Linked DNA regions of Homo sapiens. The protein of the gene in region 1 interacts with the protein of each later gene in a biochemical or structural test. Each region holds a gene or a part of one and is shown in the gene's direction. Other genes may lie near its edges.

Region 1 (3,649 bases):
TATACTCTTGGGGATAAAGAACACATTGGTATTTAATGTTAAAGAGAAGGATTATGTATAGTAGAAAAGAATTCTTCTTGGTAAAGTACATGCAAATAAACCTATGAAAGGTTTATTTGAAGATAGTAGCTTGTTTTACCTGGCATTTGAAGTAATAACACAGTGGGAAAGGCTTTAACTAGAAAATCTCACTTCACTAACTATCTTGAAAATCTTTTTCTAAACTGAAGGATAGCAACCTTACAAACAGACATTAAAAATGATTGATCAATCTTGGTAAGCAGGTGTCAAAATTAATTGGTTGGCTCCATGGTAACTTAGCTTTTTTTCTACTATAGGGATTTCGCCAGGGAATAAAAATGTTCTTCAAATGTTTCTTGAGGATAGAAGATTGATAGTTGGGGGAAGAAATGCAGAAGCAAATATAGTATCAAAAGTGGTACTTCAGTTCTCTTAGCATTGATTCCAGTCTTCTGTTTCCATTTGAAAAGAATAAAGCACTCAGAATAACAAGCCATTCCTTCCTTACACAGGTAAAACAAAAGGAACATTGATTTTTCACCCAAAGCTAGACTAAAGGACTTGGGATTGAGAATAGGAAAATATATTTGAAATATAATAATCAAAGATACAGACTCTAATTCAAGTTGTATTTATTTGAATAGTTCAGTGTAATGTTAAGCAAGAAAATATTCTGCTATAATCTATTTGAATGACGTTCTCTTTTAGAAGGGAGCCCTTGAGAATTAATTTTGTAGAGTAGAGATTTATATAAATTTATATAAATATAAAGAGTATTGCTCTTTATATTAGTCAAATATAAAGGGGTATATTTTTACCCCTCTTAGGTTAGTCAAATTTGGATACTTCATTTCACGCATTTAAAATGGAAGTATGCTGGGTGCCGTGGCTCAGGCCTGTAATCCCAGCACTTTGGGAGGCCGAGGTGGAAGGATCCCTTGAGCCCAGAAGTTTGAGACCAGTCTGGGCAAGATAGTGAGACCTCATCTCTACAAAAAATATTTTAAAAGTAGCTGGGCATGGTGGCACACACCTGTGGTCACAGCTACAAGAGAGAGTGAGGCGGAAGAATTCCTTGAGCTCAGGAGGTTGAGGCTGCAGTGAGCTGTAATCACGCCACTGCGCTCCAGCTTGGGTATCAGAGCGAGACTCTTCTTAAAAATTTATATATACATATATGAAGCATTCTATTTGTAGTGACAGCAAAATGAAGATGTAATGATATAATGTCAGGAATTAGGTTGTTATTATAGACAAAAACGGGCAGAATAAAGTGTGTAAACTCTTCCCCTAAGCTGTTAAAAATATATGCATATTGCCTGGCTTGGTGTCTCACGCCTGTAATCCCAACTCTTTGGGAGACCGAGGCGGGCGGATCATGAGGTCAGGAGATCGAGACCATCCTAGCTAACACAGTGAAACCCCGTCTCTACTAAAAATACAAAAATTAGCTGGGTGTGATGGCACGCACCTGTAGTCCCAGTTACTCAGGAGGCTGAGGCAGGAGAATCGCTTGAACCCAGGAGGCGGAGGTTGCAGTGAGCATAGGTCGCGCAACTGCACTCCAGCCTGGGCAACAGAGCGAGACTCCGTCTCAAAACAAAACAAAAATAAACAACAACAACAAAAAACAAATATATATATATGCATATGTAAATACATATATATTTGGAATCCTTTTTACTTGTAAGGAAACTGACAGTAATTATAAACTTAAACTGAATGTTCCCTGTCCCTAAGACTTCTTTATTTCAAAGTTTTATTTTAATGGATAATTTATATCCATGGATTATTTTTACATTATTAAAGTGTATAATCACACAGTAGGAATTTAAAATAATTTAAATTGAGTGTTTCTTAGATTCTAAATTGATAAGGTAAGTTACTTGTAGAAGCATAGTAGCATGGTTTTCAAGAACACGTGTCTGCATGATTTGGCCCCTTTAGCTGATTAGACTCAGGCCTCCTTTCCTCTGCCCTGACTGGCCTTTTGAAGTTCCTTGAAAGTGTCACATTCCTTTTGGCCTTAGTGCATTTTATACACGTAACTGTGAACTCTTTCCTCTCTGGTCTTTGCTTGGGTGATTACTGATCATCCTTCTAATCTTAGCTTAAATACTAGTTTCTTTTTTTTTTTTTTTTTTTTTTTTTTGAGACCGAGTCTGGCTCTGTCACCCAGGCTGGAGTGCAGTGGCGCAATCTCGGCTCACTGCAAGCTCCGCTTCCTGGGTTCACGCCATTCTCCTGCTTCAGCCTCCCGAGTAGCTGGGACTACAGGCGCCCGCCACTACGCCCGGCTAATTTTTTGTTTAGTAGAGACGGGGTATCACCGTGTTAGCCAGGATGGTCTCGATCTCCTGACCTCGTGATCCACCCGCCTCGGCCTCCTAAAGTGCTGGGATTACAGGCGTGAGCCACTGCGCCTGGCCACTTAAATACTAGTTTCTAAAGGAGGCTTGTCTGACTCTTCACACTAGGTTACCCCTTATATACTGCCCTAATAGCACTATTTTTCCTTCTTAGTATTGTCAAAAATGAGGTGTTTAATTATAATTTTGATAGTTATTTAAACAAAATTTTTAAGAGATTGAGGTATAATTGTCAAACAGCACAATTTAAAATGTACAATTTATTTAAATTATACAATTTGATAAGTTTTGTCATATGTATTTGCATCTGAAACTGTCACCACAATCAAAATCATAAAAATACCAATCACGCTAGAAAGTTTCCATGTGTTTCCTTTGTAAACCCTCCCTTTTCTAGTTGCCAATTCCTGTCCCAGGGCAACTATTGATCTGCTTTCTCTCACTATAGATTTGTTGGTATTTTCTAGAACTTTTTGTAAATAGAATCATACATTATATACTTCTTTTTTGTCTGGCTTCTTTCACACAGCGTGTTTATTTTGAGATTCATTCATGGTGTGTTAGTAGTTTATTCTACTGCCGAATAGTGTTCCAGTGTCTGGATACACCATAATTTGTTTATCCATTCAACTGCTGATGGACATTTGGATTGTTTCAAATTTTTGGCTGTTCCTTATAAAGCTGCTACGAAGTTTCATGTGGAAGCCTTTTTATCTTTGTATGGTCATATGCTTTCCTTTCTCTTGGGGAAATAACCTGAGAATGGCTGGATCATATGGGTAGATATATGTGTAACTGTTAAAGAAACCGACAAACTGTTTTCCAAAGTAGTTGTATCATTTATGTTCCCACCAGCAGTGAGTCAGTGTTCTATCTAGTTAATTTCACATCCATACCAATACTTGGTATGGTTAGTCTTTTAAATTTTTGTGATTCTAATAAGTGAATGGTATATTATTGGGTTTTAGTTTGCATTTCCCGAATTACTAATGATATTGAGTATCTTCTCATGTGCTTACTTGCCATCCGTATATCTTCTGTAATAGGCATTTATTCAAACCTTTTGCATGTTAAAAAAATTTTCTTACTGATTTTTGTGAGTTCTTTACATTTTCTGGATTACTAGCTTCTTATGAGGTATATCATTTGCATATATTTTCTACCAGTCTGCGGCTTGTCTATGAAAACAATGCAAAGAGAATGAAATCTCTTGACAGTATTTTTCAAAGAATCTAAGTTTTAAATTGATTAATTCCAGT
Region 2 (3,749 bases), on another chromosome or scaffold:
GGCATCAGTATCTATTTGTTTGTTTGATTCACTCATTGGTACTTCTCATGTAAGAAACAGCACAGCAGTTACGATGAAGACTCTGGAATCAGATGACCTGGGTTTTAAGCCAGCCTCTGCTACTTTCTAAGAATGAGATTTTAACTAAATCATTTAACTTCCTTTGGCCTCAGCTCCTCATCTCTAAAAAGAGGATAAAGTGTCTCCTTTGAAGAGAGCTGGCCTGAGAATGGAGACCACACTGAGGAACAGATAGAGCTAAGAGCTGGACAGAGCTAGCTGGCCCCTGAGGACATAGTTTGAGTTCCTGCTTTCAACCTTGCCTCAATGGAGTGCCCTCTGGATCTTCTGATTTTATGAGGTGATCAATTCTGTCTTTGGTTTATTTAAATGTAAATTAGTTTGTATTGGATTTACAACCAAATTACAATGGACTTGGTTTACGTGATCCTCTTGGTTTGCCACTGACTTTCTATACATAGAAGACAACCAATATATACTTACTGAATGTATGAATGAGCTAAAATTTATTTTTTTAAAAAACCTCTTGAAACCCATGAATTTAATCTCCTCTGCATTATCATACCATCCTAGGCAATTCACGTTCAATTTAAGTGTGTCCACATAGGAGCACATCCTTCTGTAGAGAAACACATGATGCAGCCCTGAGGGTCTTGCTGGATGAACTGGATGGCTAAGAAAACTGCAGGGAGAGACCAGAGATTGAGCTCAGAAGACCTGAGTTCTTTTCAACAGAACTAACACCATGGTCTGCTCAGTCTCTTGACCTCTCCGAGCACCATTCTTGATGCACAAGATGCGAAGAATAATATCTACCTACCGGGTAGTTGTTAAGCTCAAAGGAGCTCATTTACATGAGAGCTAAGAATGAAACTAACGTAATTTGTTGGTTTCCCCCACATATTCCCATTTCAATTGGTGATGGATACACACCTGCCAAATCATGAGCCTAAGGGTGTTAACTTTTTTTTTTCCTAATAAAATGCACAACGGTAGTCGCATTCCAGAAGGCTATGTGTCAACACACGCGATCATATCTGGGTCTTGGGTGTGACCTTTGGCCAAATACTCAGTGTCCTCGAGGGTCTGTAAAAGGAAAAGTTTCCACTGGCGCGTTCTCTCCAAGGTTCGCTTCAGCTCTGCTATCCCAGGGCTCCTGATGGCAGCGGCACGGGCTGTGCTTAAGGCGAGTTCCTAACAGGCCCTCGGGGCACTCCTGCATCTCCGCACCCGGCAGCCTCGCCCCTTGGGTGTTTTTGGTGGGCGTGACTAGAAGCACCTGCTCCTGGGCTCCTTTTGCATCTTGCTGCAGTCCCCTCCTGTGAAGGGCGCAGCTCTGCAGTCTCCTCGCTCTTCCCTCGGGTGTTCTTTCTGAGATCCGGTTTCAATCCTCGAGCGTGTAGCCCTCAGGTCCCCTTACAACTCCCCAGAGCTCCGTGTGCATGCGTGCGAGAGGGAGAGAGCCAGGGAGAGACCCAGGTGACGAGACGAGGCTCCCGGGCTCCAGTTACTGGCCCGCAGGGCCGGGGCACGTCGTCGCCCAGCGTGCGGCGGGGCCCGGGAGCGCCGCGGCCCCTTTAAGAGCCGGGCCCAGGCCGTCGCCGGGACCGCAGGAGCCCAGAGCGCGGGCGCCGCAGAGGAGTTGGGAGCCGGCGCAAAAGTTTCCTCCCAACTCTGGCCCCGTGCGCCGCCGCCGCCGCCGCCCACTCCAGCCCCCGGCTTGGGGCCGGCCCTGCCAACGCCGCCAGGGCCAGGGCCAGGGCCAGGACCAGCGACAGGGCAGGGCCGGCAGTTTCGCTTTGGTGGGCGCGGAGCAGCCGCCTGGGCCGGGCAGGAGTAGGAGCGGGAGGAGGAGGAGGAGGAGCCGGTGCCGCGGAGCTGCCGCGTCCCGGGCCGCCGGGCACCTGGGAGGTAACCCCTTTCCGCGGCCGCCCCTCCCCGATTCCCGCCACCTGCCGCCTGGCCAGGTGGAAGGGGCGCTGCCGCGAGCCTCCGGGCCTCAGGGTGTTCCGGGGAGCGGCGCCCCGGGTCTCTGGGCCCACCCGCCCCGGGCGTCCTCCGAGAGTGGGGGCTGCGCCCGCGGGGTCAGACACCTGTTCGGCCCGGCCCGGCGTGGTCGCCGGGGGCCAGGATGAAAGTGACCGTGTGCTTCGGCAGGACGGGCATCGTGGTGCCCTGCAAGGAGGGCCAGCTGCGCGTCGGCGAGCTCACCCAGCAGGCGCTGCAGCGGTACCTGAAGACCCGGGAGAAGGTGAGCGCGGCGCGGAGGAGTGGGGCGCGGCTGCAGCCAAGGCACCTGCCAGGTGCGACCCGGTGGCGACACTCAGGGGATGCAGAAAACCCAGGGGATTATGGGGCACTGCCTGTAGCTGCAGCTGTTGTCTATTGCTAATATCAGTGATGTGGGTGTCTTTGGGTGTTTGTGGGCCTTGAGCTCCGAGGGTCGTGAGTGGACCTGCAGCATTGGAATCTCTTGGGAGCTTCTTAGAACTGCCCAATATGGGCAGTTCTCCAAACCCACCGACTCAGGATCTGCTCTTTAACGAGATCCCCAGGTGATTGGAATGCCCACTGAAGTTTGAGAACCACTGGTTTAGAACTTGTTTGAGGGAACGTCTTAAAAGGTGCTGCTCACCTAAGTGTGATTTTTGACCCATTAAGGCCCGCCTCACTTAGGCTCCTTGGAGTTAGAAAGTTGATTGTGCAAGTGACACATACTCGGAAGTTACAACTGATGGGGCCTTTGGAGTTTCAGCCTTGTGAGCTGCCCTGTCTCAGTGACTTGGGCAGGAACACAGGTGGGAGCATGCTGTTTGCTTAGCCAACCTGTCTACATTTTGAGTGTTTTCAGTTTAATGTCACAGATTCTATGACCATTTACTATGTGTGTGGGCTGTTGTCAGGTCCTGAGTGACTATTAAAATGAGAAAGACGTTCCTAGCTCTGTAGCTGAAGTCAGGAACAAGTATAAATTAAGTGACAATTTTTTTTAAGTGTGCAATACATGTTGAGAAAATATCTGGCACTAGAACTTATGCCAAGTATTTGGGTAACATTGGGCCTCTGGGACTTCCTCAGTGAAACTTTTAAAGGAAGGCATTGAATAACCTTTTAATTTTTTGAATCTTCACATGGAACATTTTGTATGTCCCAAATGCTCCTCAAACAGGGCAAGTCACAAATTCTTGTTTTAGCGGCCAATGGTTCTCTTAATATTTGGTCTCGTGCCATGTGACTAAAATAGTGGGTTGGTCAATCTAGTGATGGAAAAACGTAAGTTTTAATTTCTTTTAACTTCTTATCGGTTATCCAAAGCATAAAAGTAATTGTTTCTTACAAGTGTATAGCTTAGGGGTTTAAGAAAATACTTGCACCTTCTTTGCCTCCATGAAGAATTATTATACAGAAAAAAAATTCAGCTCTGGACAGATACATGTGCATATTGCTTTGGATACTCAAGAACTGGAGGAGAGTACAATGAAAGGTCTATTAATATATTAAATATAACCCCTAAAGATGAACTCTTTACTGATGGAATTGAGGTGGAGGAGGGAAAAAATTAAAGTGGTTTATAAAGCTGTGTGAAAATCAACTGCAATGTTATGTGTGTGTGTGCACGTGCATATGTGTTTGCCATTGTTAAAATAGTGTTTGCTGTTTAAATCATGTAATTCAGTTAACTGATGTTTAAACAAGTAACCAATTGTCTATTAAATCATATTTCACTA

What was found.
Region 2: the proteins of ATRNL1 (region 1) and PARD3B interact in a test that uses a peptide from one of them, tested with the Homo sapiens proteins (one large-scale study listed by IntAct).

What each region holds. Positions count from the first base shown.
Region 1 is NC_000010.11:115,096,307-115,099,955, forward strand, and holds part of ATRNL1 (attractin-like protein 1 isoform 1 precursor), read left to right. Parts: intron 1-338; exon of another isoform or gene 339-533; intron 534-3,649. UniProt on the Homo sapiens protein: May play a role in melanocortin signaling pathways that regulate energy homeostasis.
Region 2 is NC_000002.12:204,543,848-204,547,596, forward strand, and holds the start of PARD3B (partitioning defective 3 homolog B), read left to right. Parts: upstream 1-1,627; 5' UTR 1,628-2,152; coding exon 2,153-2,272; intron 2,273-3,749. UniProt on the Homo sapiens protein: Putative adapter protein involved in asymmetrical cell division and cell polarization processes. May play a role in the formation of epithelial tight junctions.